Homo sapiens: one gene and its partners. The protein of the gene in region 1 interacts with the protein of each later gene in a pairwise test. Each region holds a gene or a part of one and is shown on either strand. Other genes may lie near its edges.

Evidence for each region. Proteins that work in one complex are often made in the same cells at the same time.
Region 2: the proteins of UBQLN1 (region 1) and LAIR2 interact in binary tests that used the Homo sapiens proteins (3 or more experiments, as listed by UniProt).
Region 3: the proteins of UBQLN1 (region 1) and CDS2 interact in binary tests that used the Homo sapiens proteins (3 or more experiments, as listed by UniProt).
Region 4: the proteins of UBQLN1 (region 1) and TMCO6 interact in binary tests that used the Homo sapiens proteins (3 or more experiments, as listed by UniProt).

Annotation. Positions count from the first base shown.
Region 1 is NC_000009.12:83,662,476-83,667,186, reverse strand, and holds part of UBQLN1 (ubiquilin-1), read left to right. Parts: intron 1-753; coding exon 754-837; intron 838-2,041; coding exon 2,042-2,157; intron 2,158-3,143; coding exon 3,144-3,312; intron 3,313-4,711. UniProt on the Homo sapiens protein: Plays an important role in the regulation of different protein degradation mechanisms and pathways including ubiquitin-proteasome system (UPS), autophagy and endoplasmic reticulum-associated protein degradation (ERAD) pathway.
Region 2 is NC_000019.10:54,500,691-54,506,052, forward strand, and holds the start of LAIR2 (leukocyte-associated immunoglobulin-like receptor 2 isoform a precursor), read left to right. Parts: upstream 1-2,140; 5' UTR 2,141-2,228; coding exon 2,229-2,262; intron 2,263-3,009; coding exon 3,010-3,045; intron 3,046-5,362.
Region 3 is NC_000020.11:5,132,719-5,137,429, forward strand, and holds part of CDS2 (phosphatidate cytidylyltransferase 2), read left to right. Parts: intron 1-4,711. UniProt on the Homo sapiens protein: Catalyzes the conversion of phosphatidic acid (PA) to CDP-diacylglycerol (CDP-DAG), an essential intermediate in the synthesis of phosphatidylglycerol, cardiolipin and phosphatidylinositol.
Region 4 is NC_000005.10:140,641,662-140,646,326, reverse strand, and holds the end of TMCO6 (transmembrane and coiled-coil domain-containing protein 6), read right to left. Parts: intron 4,663-4,665; coding exon 4,547-4,662; intron 4,458-4,546; coding exon 4,274-4,457; intron 4,013-4,273; coding exon 3,908-4,012; intron 3,837-3,907; exon of another isoform or gene 3,742-3,836; coding exon 3,656-3,741; intron 3,421-3,655; coding exon of another isoform or gene 3,403-3,420; coding exon 3,286-3,402; intron 2,764-3,285; coding exon 2,652-2,763; intron 2,548-2,651; coding exon 2,361-2,547; intron 2,228-2,360; coding exon 2,133-2,227; intron 1,755-2,132; coding exon 1,587-1,754; intron 1,343-1,586; coding exon 1,229-1,342; 3' UTR 923-1,228; downstream 1-922. Other genes in the region: NDUFA2 (NADH dehydrogenase [ubiquinone] 1 alpha subcomplex subunit 2), read left to right, coding at 649-740.

The DNA.
Region 1 (4,711 bases):
CTGATTTTTAAATTCTTAACGTTTATTTGAAGTTTAGGAGATGCCACTTTTCTCATCTCTGGTAGTAGTGAGGTGAAATCCAGATGCTAATCTTGGTGTTCTCAAATGGATTTACATCTTTTAGGTCTTAAATCATTTTAATACTTTTCCCAGAGGACTGTTGGTGCTAGGCCTGACTGATTTTCACCTAGCAGCTCCATTTCTCTGGCAAGTTGGTTGCTGTTTTGCGGTGTTATTTTTTTGGACCTAATATTAGCTGTTTTGTAGTAGGCAGGTAGATGTAGTGGTCCTTTTCAGATCTAGATTTTCTCTGTGCCTGCCACTTGTGTGTTGAGGTTTCTAAGCAAGCCATGTTACATAGTTCATGTATTGATGTTTATGTTTATTCTGCCAGTGTAGTAGAAAATATATCTTCATGAATGCCAGTTACTCCCATTTTTCTTTCAATGGCATATATTCACGTTTGTTCAAGGAAAAGCCTAAGAAAATGATTGCTTTTATTTTTTAGGATATTGCATGTCATTATCATAACCACCATTCTCATTGAGAGAGAATATGCCTCATTTTTTTGTTTTTGTTCTTCTGGAGATCCCTCTTGTGGACAGTATCTTCCCTTTTCCTTTTTTTATTTATGTTCTACCTTCCTCCCTTTTAAGTGCCAGCTGAGGCACTTGGGGGAAGATAGAATAAAACAAGGTACATTACTTGTTTCAGATATTTCCAGTTAAAATTGTTTGAACACTTGCCCCATAGATGATGCTGAATAATCCCCTATTTGCTGGAAATCCTCAGCTTCAAGAACAAATGAGACAACAGCTCCCAACTTTCCTCCAACAAGTGAGTAAGACAAGATGTTAGCTATCTTGGGTAATGATTTGCTTGAAAAAATTTGATGATAAACATTTTTCCTTGCTCTTCTCTGGCTGATAGCAAAACATAGAATAGAGACCAATAATGCTGTCAATTCGTAGAGAATTCAGCTTGATCTTCACTGAGTCCCATTTCACTGCTGACCTTTTGCTTATGTTTCTTAAACATACATTCTGAGGAAAGAACATTTTGTTTTTGCTTTTGAGGACCTAGGATTTTGAATGCTTTGTTAATACCATAAACCATTTCCTTTCATTGTACTAACTTTGAAGTGCTTCCTTGTGTCATGTTACGCTTTATGGTTTAACTAATTTTGAGTAACAGGAAAGAGCTACCCTATTCTATTTTATAGGTTTTCTTCCAAATTAGTAGAAGGCTTTTTTTCCCCAAGGGGTAGATCTCATTTCCTCAAACTCGGGATTAGTAAGATTAAAATAGTCAGTGTTGTCATATAAGGAAGTAAGGAAGGTTATAGTATAAACGAGTACTTGAGATTGCCATGGTATTTTATTATTTAAAACGACAAAAGAGAAGTCAGTCTTGGTGTTTTGAAACTGGTAGTTCTAGGGCCTCATGTATTATGCAAATGACTCTCAGACCTGTAAACCATTTTCCAAGGTTGGTGTCCTTGATCTATTGTAATGATGTAAGCCTATCTTTGGTTAGTCAGGTGGTGTATATTTGGAAGTAGTAAAGCTAAACTCAGGATACATGTATTAACGTCAAATTTGGAACTGTTGTTTTAGAGTGTACCTTACTGGTAAAATTGTTATATTAGTAACAGATAACACTTGGTTAGGTGGAATATGTGGCTTTTTACCATATCCACGTCGTAAGAATTGTGCCTTTGGAGGTTGTGTCTTAGAAGTAATACTTTATCTTCTGTTGGAGAAGGGGAATAGTTGTGGCTTCCAAAGTAGCTCCTGATTTTCTTCCATTATGGAAATGGCTTTCATGATGGACTTAGGAGGAGGTCAAGTAATAATTTGCACACTAGGTTTGCTGTCAAAGAGGAGATACTTGCGTTTATTTTGGGAAAGAAATTATGGATTACCAGTGTCCAGGAGTAAGGTTTTAGATTTTCTCCAGAAGCATAACAGAGAAAAGATTTAAAAATTTACGTTCACTGATTTTAATTCCTTTGTAACCACTAGTTTTCTTTCTTCCTTAGATGCAGAATCCTGATACACTATCAGCAATGTCAAACCCTAGAGCAATGCAGGCCTTGTTACAGATTCAGCAGGGTTTACAGACATTAGCAACGGAAGCCCCGGGCCTCATCCCAGGGTAGGCTTATTTGGGGAAGATAATGAAAGTGTATAATGGTTACTTTCTCTGAGAATTTCAGATTTAGTATTATTCTGCCTGCCTTTTTTTTTTTTTTTTTTTTTTTGGTGGGATACAGGGTCTCGCCCTTCGCCTAGGCTATGAGTGTGGGGGCGCAGTTGTGGCTCACTGCAGCCTCGACCTCTCGGGCTCAAGGGATTCTCTCACCTCAGCCTCCCAAGTAGCTGGGACTACAGGTGTGCACCACCACACCTAGCTAATTTATATATATAATTTGTTGTTGTTACTGTTTTTAGAGATGGAGCTTTGCCATGTTATCCAGGCTGGTCTCAAACTTCTGGGCTCAAGAGATTTGGCCTCCCAAAGTGGGATCAGAGACATGAGCCATAGCACCTGGTTCTCCCCCACCGTTTTTATTTATTTATTTACTTATTTATTTATTAAGAGATCGGTTTTTGCTCTTTTACCCTGGCTGAACTTGAACTTCTAAGCTCAGGTGATCCTCCCACCTCAGCCTCCCCAGTAGTTGGGACACAGTGCCTGGCTATGATTGTTTTTAAGTCAGGGTTTTCAAAGTTAAAAATGATTATTATTATTTTTTAAATTCCTTTTAGAGATAGTCTCACTCCATCGAGCAGACTGGAGTGCAGTGGCGCGATCTCAGCTCACTTCAGCCTCTACCTCCTGGGCTAAAGCAATCCTCTTACCTCAGCCTGCCAAGTAACTGATACTACAGGTGTGCACCAGCACACCCAGCTAATTTTGTTTTTATTTTTTGTAGAGATGAAGTCTCAACAATGTTGCCTAAGCTGATCTCAAATTCCTGGGCTGCTGGGATCATCGGTCTCCCAGAATGAGCCACTGCACCAGGCCAAAAGGGCTTATTTTAAGAAGATGGCTTAGCTTATATTAAAATGTAACTGATTTACGGACTGGCTTCTGGTTTTGCAGGACCTTAGGATATTTCCTATTTGTGCTTTCTGTAGGTTTACTCCTGGCTTGGGGGCATTAGGAAGCACTGGAGGCTCTTCGGGAACTAATGGATCTAACGCCACACCTAGTGAAAACACAAGTCCCACAGCAGGAACCACTGAACCTGGACATCAGCAGTTTATTCAGCAGATGCTGCAGGCTCTTGCTGGAGTAAATCCTCAGGTATCAGTTCTTTTCCATTCAAGTTTTGTATTCCTTAATGTTGGAAATTTAGAAATTTCCAAAAAGAAGGAAAAAGGGAGAAAAAAGGAAAGCAGTAGTTCTTAGGTGTTTAGATTAATGAAAAATACAGTCTTAAGGATATTGAGTAAGAAAACAGGCATTACAAAAATTGTTGACTTTGGTGCTGAGACACTAAAGGAAACGTTGTTACGGTTGTAGAGAAGACATGCTACAACCTAAAGTCTTATTTTTTAGAAATTGCCTTTAAAAATGCATTTTTTTTGTTCCTATTTGAAAATCATTTGAAATAGATTTTGCTTTAAAAAAGTTCTTAGGGAGGAATGGAAACTTGATTATCCCAAGTACCTCCAGGGCAGCTGTATTCTAGTCTGTCTTTTGACTGGAAAAAAGTCCTAACTACCTTAACTCCACCCATGACACCACCTCCTGCGGTAGCTTGTGTTACATATATATATATCTCGTAAATATGGCTAAAGAATATGGACCCCCTAATAATGTGGTTGCATCTACAAACATACATTGGTTTTACTAATAATGTGCCATTATATAAAGATGATCGCCAGTTTAAACCTGTTTTATTAGGTTGTCCCCAAACTTCTTAATGTCTCAAGGTCTGTTAGGTGCTTTCTGTTTTCTTTTCTGGGTTTCTTTTTTCTTTCCCTTTCTCCTTTCCCCTTTCCTTTTCCTCCTTCCTCTTCCCCTTTCCCTTTTCCCTTTCCTCTTCCCCTTCCCCCTTTCCCCTTTTTCCTCTTTCCCCTCTTTGCCTTTCCCTTTTTTTTTTTTCTTTCCCTTTCCCTTTTGACAAAGTGCCCAGGCTGGATGCAATCACAGCTCACTGCGACCTGCACCTCCTGGGCTGCAGCAATCCTCCCACCTTAGCCTCTGGAGTAGCTGGGATTACAGGCGCAGACCACCACACCTGGCTAATTTTTGTATTTTTTGTAGAGCTGGGGTTTCAACCGTGTTGCCCAGGTTGGTCTCAAACTCCTGAGCTCAAGCGATCTCACCCGCCTTGGCCTCCCAAAGTGCTGGGATTACAGGCGTGAGCCTGGCCTGCTTTCTGTTTTCAAGCCTTACTAAATATAATAAATAGGGTAGGGTTCTGTCTCATACATATCTGTATTCCTGATAAGCTAGCGTAGCATAGTTTCTGGCTCTTGGTAGGTACTCAGTAAATATTCATGGAATAAATAAGAAAGAAGGATTTGGAGTATTAGAATTAATTGTGACATAAGTTAACTTACAAGCCTCCAAATTATCAGGTAGGCCTAGGATTGATTGGTCATTTATATGGAGATTTTTTTTTTTAACTTCATTTCTGAAGAAAAGATTTGATGCTGCTGAAATGTCAGAATTAAGAGTATAATTTTGGGCCTGA
Region 2 (5,362 bases), on another chromosome or scaffold:
GCTCTGTTCTGCTTTATTATTATTGGTCATATCTGGTCATACGCCCTGAAAACCCTGAAAATGGGATTGCTAAAATCGCCTTAATCTAAACTCCATTTCCCTCCCACTTGCTCCCTGGGCTTGGAGCACAACCACTCAAACAGAACTGGCTTTTGGTCAGTAAGGAAGAAGTGAGCAACGGCTGCGGTGTAGACCCTCGTCAATGCCTGCGACGGTTACACCTGGAGACAAGCTCCCCAGTGTCCTCAGGAGCAGCGGAGATGAGAATCCATGATAGGGTGGGCTCTGTCCCCCTCAGCTCCGTGATGCCGAAATGCACTGCTGGTCCTGGTCCTGCTCCTCATTCCACACCCGGCTGAGTGCCCATCTGACCCCAGACCTCAACGCGAGGTTCTAAGCACTGTCTCCTGACCCTTCAACCCCTTCGGGATTTTGCATGTGCTGTTGGACCACCTCACTCCCACCTGGAGCCAAATGACACTGTAGGAGGAGGGGAAGAGAACTTATGCTAGTAGAGTGTGTGTGTGTGTGTGTGTGTGTGTGTGTGTGAATGTGTGTGTGTATTATACATAATATATATAATTACAACATTGTTAATGGGGCCGGGCGCGGTGGCTCACACCTGTAATCACAGCACTTTGGGAGGCTGAGACGGGCAGATCACATGAGGTCAGGAGTTCAAGACCAGCCTGGCCAACATGGTGAAACCCCGTCTCTACTAAAATACAAAAATTAGCCGGGCATGGTGGCGTGCGCCTGTAGTCCCGGCTACTCAGCAGGCTGAGGCAAGAGAATTGCTTGAGCCTGGGAGGCGGAGGTTGCAGTGAGCCAAGATTGCACCACTGCACTCCAGCCTGGGCAACAGAGTACGACTCCATCTCCACACACACATACACACACACACACACACACACAAATTGTTAATTGTATATGTATAATTATAATAGTTTATATATATTAACAATTATATATAAACTTGCATATATATAGTATTTGCTGTATTATTATATATAAACAATTATATATGTAATGACTGTATAAAATAGATAAACAATTTTAACTAATAATATTATATTAATTATATTATTATTAGATGTAATAATTATAATTATTTATATATAATATTTATTATTATGTATCATTGTTAGAACACTTAACATGAGCTCTGTCCTCTTAACAAATTTCAAGTGAACAAGACGTTATTGCTGACGATGGGTCGTATGTGGTGCAGCAGATCTCTAGGCCTGTTTGTTAATAACTCCCCATTTCCCCCTCCTCCCAGCCCCCGTAACCACCATTCCCTGCTGTGATGTTGTGACTCTGGTGACTTTGCAGATCTCCTGTAAGTGACATCATGCAGTACTTGGTCTCTGCATCTGCGTCGCTTGGCGTGATGTCCTCAGGTTTCGTCTGTGTTGTCGCCCATGGCAGAATTTTCTTCCTTGTTTAAGGCTGAATAGTATTCCCCTGTGTGTGCACCACATTTTCTATATCAATTCTTCTATCAATGGACATTTAGATGATTTTCACGTCTTAGCTATTGCGAATAGTGCTGCAGTGATCAGGGGAGTTCAGACGGCTCTTTGCATACTGAATTTGTTTCTTTTAAATATAGACCCAGAAGTGGCATTGTTGGACCATACGGTAGCTCTATGTTTAGTTTTTTGAGGAACCTCCCCACTGTTCTCTATAGTGAGTGCACAATTTTTCAGCCTCCCAAAGTGCTGGGATCACAGGCGTGAGCCACCGCGCCCGGCGCACTGTAGGATCTTTTTTAATGCATTATATACCTTGCTGAGATTTTAGCAGAGATCACAATATTAAAAACTTGGGGAAGGATTTCTATGACTCTTATTTTAAATACGAGGACATGTCGACTTCTAGTTTTGTAACATCTTGCCCAAGAGCGGTGGTCGTTAACGTGTGGAGTTGGGATGACATCCAAGTCAGTTGGTTGCACGACCTTTATTCTGTCTTGTCCCATAGATTTAGAAAGAGGCTGACACATCGGGTAACTAGTTTAAGGTCATCTGATCATGCGGGTAAGCGACATTTTTCAGAAACCAAGGCCCTCCCTCTCATCTCACTAGTGGGAAGGGTGGAAAGAACAGAACAGAAAGCTCTCCCTCTTGTGTGAGGCAGTTGCTGTGGAAGCCCCACGGGCAGGAGGCCCCCGGCCAGCACATCCTGTCTGCTTGTGTCTGCTGCAGAGTTCTGGGACCGGGGCCATGTCTCCACACCTCACTGCTCTCCTGGGCCTAGGTGAGTCCTGGAGGGAGCGGGAAGGACTGGAAAGGGGGTCGGGAGGTCTGGAAAGTTCCCTGCTCAAGCCTGACTCTAGTCCAGAAGATTCTGGGGAGGAAAGTGTCCTCCTCCCCCCAAGACTGCCCTACTGCTCTCCCTGGGGCCTAAGTCTGATCAGAGACAACCTTGTCCTAAAAACAGGGGCCCGGGTGTGGGGATGAGGTCAGCTTTAAGAAGGGCTGGGGGGCCAGGCGCGGTGCTCACACCTGTAATCCTAGCACTTTGGGAGGCTGAGGCAGGTGGATCACCTGAGGTCAGGAGTTTGAGACCAGCCTGGCCAACGTGGTGAAACTCCATCTCTACTAATACAAAAATTAGCCGGGCATGGTGGCGGGCACCTGTAATCCCAGCTACTCGGGAGGCTGAGGCAGGAGAATTGCTTGAACCCGGGAGGTGGAGGTTGCAGTGAGCTAAGATCGCGCCACTGCACTCTAGCGTGGGCGACAAGAACAAAACTCCGTCTCCAACAACACCAAAAAGAAGGGCTGGGGGAGCAGGAGCCTTTTTGGAAGAGGAGACTTTGGGATTTATCTTGAAACCATTTTGCAGCAAGAAGGATTACATGGAGACAGTGATGTCGAGGAGGGTTGGCTTGGTCGTTATGAAATGCTGAATGCCCCCCAGCTCCGTCAAGCCCCCTTTTGACAGCAGCCCTGTAAGGAGACTGGGCAGTGGGCATTTTTCTCACTGGGGCTTCTCTTCCAGTGCTCTGCCTGGCCCAGACCATCCACACGCAGGAGGGTAAGTCATGCCTTCGTCCCGTCTTCCCAGTCCCCTCTGTCACCCCAAAGGCAGTGCTGGGTGGGAGTGATGTTGATTCTTAGAGGGCCTGGAGAGATCCCTTTAAATATACCCTAGATTGCAAACTATTCCAAATGTAAAATGCATAACCCTCACCCCTTTCTCTCCTTCATTCTCCACCTGTCATGTTTTGCTTTTCTTATTTTCAAAAATCCTATATTTTATTTTATTTTTATTTTTGAGATGGAGTCTCACTCCATCACCCAGGCTAGAATGCAGTGGCATAATCTCGGCTCACTGCAACCTCTGCTCCCAGTTTCAAGCGATTCTCCTGCCTCGGCCTCCTGAGTAGCTGGGATTACAGGCACCCACCACCACCCCTGGCTAATTTTTTTTTTTTTTGTATTTTTAGAAGAGATGGGGTTTCACCATATTGGCCAGGCTGGTCTCGAACTCCTTACCTTATGATCCGCCCGCCTCAGCCTCCCACAGTGCTGGGATTACAGGCATGAGCCACTGTGCCCAGCCAAAAATCTTATTTTTAATCGACAAATAATTGTATATGTTTGTGGGGCACGATGTGATGTTACAACGTATGTAAACATTGTGGAAAGATTAAATAAGGCTAAATAACATATCAATCACATCACATACTTATTGTGATGAGAACATTTAAAACCTACTTTTAGCAATTTTGAAATATATAATAAGTTATTATTAACTATAGTCAGCCTGCTATGCAATAGATCTCAAAAACTTACTCCTCCTGTTTAACCGAAACTTTGTACCATTTGATCAGTGTCTCTCCCAAGCCCCCCATTTCCCGACTTTAATAGCATCATTCTAATCTCTAACTCTGTGAGATGACCTTTTTTGTTTGTTTGTTTGTTTTGGGATGGAGTCTCACTCTGTCACCCAGGCTGGAGTGCAATGGCACAATCTCGGTTCACCGCAAACTCAACTTCTCAAGTTCAAGCGATTCTCCTGCCTCAGCCTCTCGAGTAGCTGGGATTACAGGTGCATGCCACCACGCCCAGCTAATTTTTGTGTTTTTAGTAGAGATGGGGTTTCACCATGTTGGCCAGGCTGGTCTTGAACTCCTGACCTCAGGTGATCCACCCACCTCGGCCACACAAAGTGCTGGGATTACAGGTATGAGCCACTGCACCCGGCCGAGATGAACTTTTTTAGATTCCACATGCGGTATTTGTCTTTCTGTACCCAGCTTATTTCACTTAGCATAATGTCCTCTGGTTCATCCATGCTGTTGTGAATGACAGAATGTCCTTCCTTTTTTAGGGCTGAATAATATTCCATTGCATATATACACCACATTCTCCTCATCCATTCATTTGGTGGTGGTTATATAACTCAGGTTATTTCCAGGTCTTGGCAGCTGTGAGTAGCGCTGCGGTCACCCTGGGAGTGCAGGCATCACCTCCACACACCGATTTCCACAATGAGAATTCAAACCCAACACAACCAAGGCTGAACCCGGCACTTTTCCCCAGACGAGCCCACACTTCACTCGGCAGCTTCTTGGCGGGGAACGTGACAGTCACAAAGGGCAGACTCTGAACACTCATCCTCTTCTCCATCCTCCTGGATGCACCATGTCACCCAGTCCTGGTGATTTCACTCTAAATTTTTCTCATCTTTCCCTCTCTCTTCATCGACTTTTCCTGCATCACCCCCAGGTGACAGCCCTTCTCCCCTCCGTGGCTCCCCGAGGCCGGCCTCAGCCTGTCCATGCCACTGCTGCCTGCTCCCTTCCTGACCCCAGGGACTGGCGATTTGCAAAAGCACAACCATGACCATTGTACTTTCCACAGTTTTTAAATTGCATTCAAAAATTTTCATTTAATATCTCATCGTAAGATGAAGTTTTTTTCTTAGAGCCCTTCCCCTGTTTATCTTCAGATAGAATCAACCCAGGCACCTCTCTTTGTTCTGGACATGCCCATTTTCCCAGCCACATCCTGTCCCTGTGACCTGGGGCTCACTCATCTCTACATTCCTCCAGGTTCTTTCGCTTTCTCAAACACTCCATATGCCGCTCAACATGGTGGTTCTTCTCACATGCTGATTTTTTTTTTTTTTTTTGAGATGGTGTTTCATTCTTGTTGCCCAGGCTGGAGTGCAATGGCTCGGTCTTGGCTTACTGCAACCTCTGCCTCCCTGGTTGAAGCAATTCTCCCTGCCTCAACCTCCCAGGTAGCTAGGATTACAGGTGCCTGCCACCATGCCTGGCTGATGTTTTTGTATTTTTAGTAGAGACGGGGATTCACCATGTTGATCAGGCTGGTCTCGAACTCCT
Region 3 (4,711 bases), on another chromosome or scaffold:
CAATTATTTTATGTTTCTTATTTTTGTTGCTCAAACAGTATGATTTTATTTTAAAAACTCAATTACTGCATGATTTTTGACTATTTAAAATTAGTTTTTCCAAAATCTATTTTTAAAAAATGTTTTGTGTTTGCCCAGGTTAACATGGTATTTCATTAGAAGAATTTTTATCGGCCGGGCGCGGTGGCTCACGCCTGTAATCCCAGCACTTTGGGAGGCTGAGGCGGGCGGATCACGAGGTCAGGACATTGAGACCATCCTGGCTAAGACGGCAAAACCCCTTCTCTACTACAAAAAAAAAAAAAAATTAGCTGGGTGTGGTGGCGCCCGTAGTCCCAGCTACTCAGGAGGCTGAGGAGAATGGCGTGATGGCGTGAACCCGGGAGGCGGAGCTTGCAGTGAGCCGAGATCCCACCACTGCACTCCAGCCAGGAGGACAGAGCGAGACTTCATCTCAAAAAAAAAGAATTTTTATCATCTTTAAAAAATGTTAAATTGCTCTCCTTGGTTGTTAGGACTAGAAGGGACTTTAAAGGTGTTTTTTATTTTTAGGAACAGGGTCTCACCTTGTTGCCCAGGCTGGAGTGTAGTGGCACAGTCATAGCTCACTACAGCTTTAAACTCCTGAGCTCAAGCCATCCTCCTACCTCAGTCTCCTGAGTAGCTCAGGACTACAGGCCTGAGCCATGGCACCCGGCTTGAGGTAGTTATTTTATAGAAGAGGATGCCACAGCTCAGAGAGTTTAAGTTATTAGCTCAAGATGACTTAGTTGGTTAGATACAGAATGGTTCGTATTATGAAGGTCTTCTATTTATTTATTTTTTGAGACGAAGTTTCGCTGTTGTTGGCCCAGGCTGGAGTGTAATGGTATAATCTCAGCTGACCGCAACCTCTGCCTCCTGGGTTCAAGCAATTCTCCTGCCTCAGCCTCCTGAGTAACTGGGATTACGGGCATGCCACCACGCCCAGCTAATTTTGTATTTTTAGTAGAGATGGGGTTTCTCCATGTTGGTCAGGCTGGTCTCGAACTCCTGACCTCAGGTGATACTCCCGCCTTGGCCTACCAAAGTGATGGGATTACAGGCGTGAGCCACCGCGCCTGGCCTATGAAGGTCTTCTAATTCCCGGTTGTTGTTTTTTATTTTTTTCTCATAGAATTAATTTACAGACTTTAAAAGCTTCTTTATTGATTAACATTGATAGATATGATACCCAAATGTTACCTATTTTTCTTATTTGGCTACAAAATCAAAAAAATACTATATAAATCTTTCAAAATGTTAAATGTTAAAAAGGTCTCAGAGTAAATGTGGAGACTCTTTGCAGAAAAAAATGTATGTGTTTTATAGAGAAAGTTGATTAGTTTCAGTTTTCCTGGTTATCGGATGACTGTGATTTAGACATTTGTGAGCACTTTCCTGGGAGTGGCCACTCTGGTATCCTTGAAAGGCACTCCCGGCGCAGTGCTTGAAGACCACAAGGCGCCTTACCCAGGCAGTGGGTGAGGGTGCTTGGAAGAAATGCTTTCCAGTTAATGACTGTTAGCATGAGAACCATTTGTTCTAGTAATAAGCAGTCATTCAGTATTCAACGCTTCTCTTTAGAACATTCACTGACTGTAGGGTCTGCTATGGACGGTGTCTGTATTTCTGAGAGGGGCTGGTGTTATCAGTGTTCATAAGGATATTATTCAGAATTTTATTGCCTGTTTTGACTCCACATAATCAATTTTTTCCCTACTGATTTAAAGAAATAATACAATCTTTTTTAAATCAATAATATTTAAGAGTTTTATTTTTATTTATCTATTTATTTTTTGAGATGGAGTTTCTCTCTTGTTGCCCAGGCTGGAGTCCAATGGCGTGATCTCAGCTCACTGCAACCTCTGCCTCCCGAGTTCAAGTGATTCTCCTGCCTCAGCCTCCCGAGTAGCTGGGATTACAGGCGCCCACCATCACACCCAGCTAATTTTTATATTTTTAGTAGAGACAGGGTTTCACCATGTTGGCCAGGCTGGTCTCAAATTCCTGACTTCAGGTGATCTGCCTGCCTTGGCCTTCTACAATGCTGGGATTACAGGCATGAGCCACCGTACCCAGCCGACTGCATATTTAAATTGGTAAGGTAGAAAATGAGCATGAGAGTCTAACAGCTGATGGATATGGGAACATAATACTTGATAAAATCATTCAGAATATGTTTGATAAACAAGAAGATTGTATAAAACCTGCACTGTCCTACTAATGTAAAGCATTTCTCCTCCCTCACTTTATTCTCAACCTTACAACTGCCAGAAATTATATAATCTTGAATATATTTGAGAAACTCTTTTTAAAATGAATCTTGTAACTAATTTCTTTTTTGAATTTATATATATAAATATATACATACTTATTTTATAATAGAGACAGGGTCTTAAAATGTTGACCATTGAACTCCTGGGTTCAAGCGATCTTCTCGCCTCGGCCTCTCAAAGGGCTGGTACAGCGTGAGCCACCGTGCCCGGCCATTGTAACTAATTTCACAGGGCAGATAATCATCCTTTAAACTGTTTGAAAAGATTTGAGTGTTACTGTTTCTGGTTTTCACACTTTTCCATCTTTTCTAGGATCCACGTAGGTGGAGGAGATTCCTCTCCACAGTTTGTTAAGCTACATTCTATGTTGTTAAGGTCTCCCAGCCCTTCTGGACTGGCACTAGAGGCTGTTGGGGGTGAAAAAGTACAGCTGTTTGTGTGTCATACTGCCTCTGGTTCAGAAAAGAGACGGACACTGACTCTTCACTATTAATTTTGCCAAAGTCTCCTTGAAAGAATGCTAATTTGTTCCTGGCACTGGGCAGGGTTCCTGCCTTCCAAGTCTTGTCATGTGGTGGTTACTTGGCTGGGGTAATAGTGAGGCACCCCCTCCCCACCCCCACGTATGGTCCCCACCGGGCAGCTTCCTATGCCAGTCACTGATATTTGTTCTCATGTTGTTTGCCCCAACAGTAGGGATGGCATTGAGCCCACTAAGTTGACTGACCTTTTGAAGAAAGTTAAACTTTATGGTGTTATTTTGAGTAGGCAGTCTGTGGTGCAGAATTTGTAGGCAGCAAAGGGTATTCTGTGAAGTTTCCTTTCTCCCGCCTGCCTCTCCCCAGGGACAGCCTCATGCCACACTGTGGTTCTCATGAGCACTGCTGTCTGTGTGGAAGGACCTGACCTGTCCTACCAAAGTCAGACATCTTTTTGATTTGTTGTCTTTGGCAGAAGCTCCTTTGTATTAAGGTCTCCATAGGGCCAGCTTGGGGCTTCTCTGTAAAGACTTTGCTGAGGTTTTGAGAGTTCCTGGGACTTGGGATTTACGGGCAACACTCTCTGCCCCTGGGTCTCTGATGTGGAGAGGATGTCTGCCATTGACACCGAACCCCTGAGTGGGCAACTCTCAGAGCCATATCTCCACAGTCCATGCCTGGCTAGTCCTGTGGTTTCAGTGGTCTACAAGACATTCCTAGGTGCATGCCCTTCAGTCCACACAAACTGACTTTGTCTCAAATCTGAATTCTCTCATTCTACTCTTACCACCCTCCTTCAGTTTCTTTCTTCTGCGATAAAATCCCAGATGACTCGGTTACTCAGGCTTGAAATCTCCTATTCCTTTGTTCCCGTGCCCAGGGCAGGATGCAGATTCTAACCAGGTGTGACTTGGAATCCTTATCTGTTTGTTGTTTGTTGTCTGTTTGTTGCTCTTGGAGACTTCAACATTTCAGGACTGCAGTATTGTAAATGCCTGCAGTATCCTAAATCCGAATTCCTTACCTCTCCTGGAATCCTTATCTGTCTTTTACTCTTTGAGATTTCCCAAATTTCAGGATTTATTGCTTGCCTTATTGTAAACCCTGTGAATTGAGCTCCCTCCTGTTAGGATTTGCTCTAGGTCCCTCCTAATCCATCTTGTTCTTTGTATCTTTCAGGAGTTCTGAAACTGCCCTAATAATTATTGGGGGGGTGGGGTGGAGTGATAGAATTCTGGCTCTTTTTCATAATGCTTAAACTTTAAGATCCTTTGTAGTCTTCTGTCTCTCATTTCCTTCCAATTCTTGTTTTAGGTTCAGGGGATACATGTGCAGGTTTGGTACACGGGCAAATTGCACATTGCTGAGGTTTGGTGTACAAATGATTTTGTCACCTAGGTAGTGAGCATAGTACTAGATGGGTAGTTTTTCAATCCTCACCAGCCTCCCACTCTCCACCCTCAAGCCCTGGTGTCTCTTGTTCCCCTCTTTGTGTCCATGTGTAGCTCCCAGTTCACTCTGCAAGTGAGAACATGTAGTGTTTGGTTTTCTCTTCTTGCATTAATTTGCTTAGGATAATGACCCCTAGCTGCATCCATGTTGCCACAAAGGATATGATTTTATTCTTTTTTATGTAGCCTTCTCTCTTAACTGGCCTTTCTCCCTGCTTGGTGCCTCTGTGTCATGGATCTTGATTCTTGCTCTTTCCTACCTCTGAAATGTGTTCTTTCTGTCACCCTCCCTCATTTCTACCCTTTTTTTTTTTTTGAGATGGAGTCTCGCCCTGTCGCCCAGGCTGGAGTGCAGTAGCGTGATCTCGGCTCACTGCAGCCTCCGCCTCCCAGGTTCAAGCAATTCTCCTGCCTCAGCCTCCCTAGTAGCTGGGACAACAGGTGCTTGCTACCACACTTGGCTAATTTTTGTATTTTTAGTAGA
Region 4 (4,665 bases), on another chromosome or scaffold:
TAGAGAATGGGTACCCAGCTGGGTGCGGTGGTTCACGCCTGTAATCCCAGCACTTTGGGAGGCTGAAGCAGGTGGATCACCTGAGGTCAGGAGTTCAAGACCAGCCTGGCCAACATGGTAAAACCCCGTCTCTACTAAACATACAAAAATTAGCCGGGTGTGGTGGCGGGCACCTGTAATCCCAGCTACTCAGGAGGCTGAGGCAGGAGAATTGCTTGAACCCAGGAGGTGGAGGTTGCAGTGAGTGGAGATCGTGCCACCACACTCCAGCCTGGGTGACAGAGCGAGACTCCGTCTCAAAAAAAAAAAAAAAAAAAGAGAGAGAATGGGCTCCCAGCTGAGGCTGGACCCATGCAATACATTGCTCACCGTAGTTAATAATAAATGCCTACAGTGCCCCCGAAAGCTTCCCTGAAACAACCCATTGCGGCCATCCAGAATCAGCCAAAATTCTATTTGGACTTGGGCTTCCTAGATGTGTTTGAGACCTATTGTATTAATTCTAGGCATACCAAATGTATTTTGATCATATCTCTTTAATACTCTTCCTGTCTTAACAAGACTAAGATAAAGACAAAGATCTTTTATTTTACTTTGGTAGCCTCCAGGGTGCAGAATAGTTAAAGACACCTCCCTCTCTCTCTTCAGCATTTGGCCAAGAGACGAATGTCCCTTTGAACAACTTCAGTGCTGATCAGGTAACCAGAGCCCTGGAGAACGTTCTAAGTGGTAAAGCCTGAAGCCTCCACTGAGGATTAAGAGCAACAGCCCCAGAGCCTGGGCTCTGCTGGACTTAGTATAATGTGAAAAAAATGTGTTCTCCTATTCCTCATAAAGCTTGTGCTGTAAAATACTTTCTCAGGGTGTTCTTGTCCTCATCTACCCTCTACCCCTTACTGTGCAACCACTGAGGCAAAGTAGCTTAATATAAAAATAAAACTTTATTCTGTCTCATCAAAAGCTACCAGCTGCTGAAGCAAACATGAAGGGTGGCGGGGGGGCAGGGATTCTAGGGCCCCAGAGTAAGTAGACCACACTGAGTCCCTTTTGGTCCTCCTGCCTGGATAGTGCTGAGTGGAAGGGGAGGAGCTGGGACCCAAAGGTCTTGGCTTAGGTGTGGGAGCAGAGAACATGAGACCTCATTATGGTCCTAAATCTCCAAAGGCTCTACTGGACAAACAAGCTTGATGTTAAGAGAGAGGGGAATGAGTGACATTGAGAAACAAGATCACCCTTGAAGAGCTGTCTGCTGGAGAGCATACACACGATCCTGGAGCTGGGCCTCTTCCTGATGCCTTTCCAGGGCTTGCAGCCCTGACTGCTGCAGGAAGACCTGAACAGCCTAGGGGCAGGGAAGAAAATTCAACACACCTGGTCTCTGTGTCCTAAGACTCAATTCCCACAGCCTCATGGGTCAGCCTACTCCAGAGGGTGCATTCCCCAACAAGAGGATGAAGTTTCTGACATGGAACCTATATAGGTTAGCCAGGCCCAGAGAAACAACTATAGTTAGGACTGGATGGGAAGGGAGCCACTGTGTGGCTTCAGAACAGGGGTGACTGAGGATGTGGGCCAGAAACCTATACCTCTGGCTGATACAGGAACAGCAGATGCAGCAGCTCCAAACTCTGGCCTACTACTTCAGTGTCAGAAAAGGCTAGTGTGTGCAGCAAGGCGGGAAGCAGGGGCCCTGGCCACAGCCGCTGGCAGTAAGCAGGACCCTTTTCTGCAACATTGCACAGAACTGTGAGCACCTGCAGATAGACACATATATAGTCTACAAAGAATGAAACACAAAGATCATAACAATAGCTAAAATATATGACATGGTGACCACATGCCCAGGCACCATGCCAAGCTCTTCTACATACATGTTCTCATACTCCTACAACTACCCTATGATGCAAGATTATCCTCAGTTATAAGTGAGGAGACTGAAGCTTAAGGTGGTTAGTTGATTTGTCCAAGGATAAATAATCCAGTTTAAGGGACACACACCTAGATTGGTTGGGCCCTGAGGCCACACACCACCACCTGCTGGCTCTCAACTAAGGGTACATCTGAGGGCTCAGGACTGCTGTCCCATACAATCCGACTACCAGATCTTGGATTCAAGTAACCCCAATACATACCATTACGCTCACCACGTTAGATACTGGCAACAGCTGTAAGAGAGGCTCAATCAGATCCAGGGAGAGCAAGGAGGTACAGAAACTAGGACTGTTTGCTGGAAGAGAAGTACCAGGGTGAAAAACTGCTTTCCCCCACCACCCCTGTCAATACTACCCACCTCAGCCTAGGCCATGAGGAAATATCCCCATTATCCAAATGTCCAGGCCTGGGCAGATTATGGTGCGTACCAGTGAGGTTGTTGAGGAGCCAAAGGCCCTCAGGGAGCAGACTGGGCTGTTTCTGGAAAAAGAACTGCAGAAGGATAAATAAGGCTGCCACAACACGCTCATCTCTGAGCTGCATTTGCCCTCCCACAGTCTCCACTGCTGCCTCAGTTAGCAGGTTGCTTAGACATCGAAGCACGGGGCATGCCAGCTGCAAAGACAAATTGGGGGGTCAGGTGTAAGAAGGAAGAGGTTACCTGCATTCCAGAGTATCAAGAAACATCTCCCAGAATTTCACCTGACATCTTCACCTACCAGCTCCAGTCCTGCATCCTCGGTTTTCTGGACAGCCCCAGCCAAGTCCAACAGCAGCAACCCCAGAGTAGACAGAGCCCCATGGCCAATGAGCAGAGGATTGCTGACCTGGCTGGGCAACAGGAAGCAAGCAGTCCCTAGGTATATAGTCAATTCCACCTTTAAGAAGAGAAGCAGTTGCCTAGGCGTGGTGGCTTATGCCTGTAATCCCAGCACTTTGGGAGGCTGAGGTGGGTGGATCACCTGAGGTCAGGAGTTTGAGACCAGCCTGGCCAACATGGCGAAACTCCGTCTCTATTAGAAATACAAAAATTAGCCGGGCATAGTGGCACGCATCTGTAGTCTCAGCTACTCAGGAGGCTGAGGCAGGAGAATCGCTTGAACCCGGGAGGCAGAGGTTGCAGTGAGCTGAGATCGCACCACTGTACTCCATCCAGCCTGGGTGACAGAGTGAGACTGTCTCAAAAAAAAAGAGAAACAGCTAAGGTCTGTGGGTCTCCTGGGCTCCAAAAAGAGAAGACAGTGGAGGGAGGAAAACTCACTATAGCAATTCCAGACACAAGTTCAAAGAGTTGAATGTCATGGAAGGGAGCCCCAGGGAAGATCTGTGGTACTTTCCCAATTGCCCTGTTACCTGCAGATGATGTAATGAAGGCACCAGGCAAACTCCACAGCGACCCCAGGGTTGAGCTTTGGGCCAGGTTGCAACATTTGTAGCATGTGCTGAGGGAGAGTGGAGGCCAAGATGGAGCTGCTGGCAGAAGCAGGGCTGTAAGTAGGAACCACGAAGATGCCAGTGGTTCTTACCAAACCCTGATAGCAGGTGGGAGAGTGTCCAAACCCAAAGCCCTGCCCAGATGGGAAAGTGTCCAAACCCAAAGCCCTTCCTAGCCAGACACATGAATTTAAAATGTGCAACAGCTTTGGAAATCATTCAGGCATCCGGGAGCTATACTACTGAGTGGGTCACCTCTGGCTGCACATCTAAAGACAATTTTACTCACGGAATGATCTTCTCTGGAGCTTCCTCAGCCTGTAGAAGCTGGGACAAGGCATATCCGAGAGCTTCCAGCACAGCCACATGGGGGGACTGGAAGTAGACAGGGTAAGGATCTGACTGGAAGCTGGGTCATCAGGTCTTCAGAGACTTTCAGCCCCTTGGCACAGGGCAGAGGCTGGAGCTACCTAACCAAAGTAGATGGAGCATGTGGGGAGGAGCAAAGGAAGGGTTGCCCAGGGAGGAAGAAAGGAGTCACCTGGATGCAGGCAGCCAAGGCTGGAACAATGCCCTGTGGCAGGAGCTGCCTTCTCACAGCCTCACTCTCCACGATCAGGTTACCCAGTGTATACAGACACAGCTCCTGAGAACAGGCAACAAAAGCACTGGGCTTGGCCTGTTTCATGCCAGGCTGCGTGTGGGGAGATGGGGAGGGGAGGTGATGGGGACGCTGGAGCAGCTATCCTTGCGGCTCACAAGAGGGTGGGGAGATGATGGGTGTAGCCATGGCTGTAGGCATAAGGGCAAACATGTTTTCTTCCTCCTACCTGCCAGCTCAAACTGGTCCCAAAAGCACAATTTTAAAATCTAAACCAAGAACAAGATAGGAAGGGACAGGGCTTACTATGAAGTCTGAGCTGTGACTGGAGAGGTAGGTGAGGAGGTAAGAAGTGGCTGGCAGGCAGGCCTCAGCAACAGTGGACTGCTCGGAGTGAGAGAGCTCATGCAGGCACCGAGCCGCCTCAAGCTGCAGCAGGGCCTGGTTGCTGGTCAGGAGCCCGACCAGGGTCCGCATGCTGCCCTCCAGCCTATGTGAGTGAGTACCAGAGCCCTGCTTAGCTTGTGGTCCATCCCTCAGAGCCCCAACTCCTCCCTCCACCACACCATCCACACTGACCGGATGAAGGTTTGCTGTGTTTCAGGGTGCTGCAAGCCTCGACGAAGGCTGACCAGAGCCCCCTCTCTCTCCTTTTCCTCTGTCCCCCGCTGGGCTTGCCGCAGGAACTGCTGCACCTG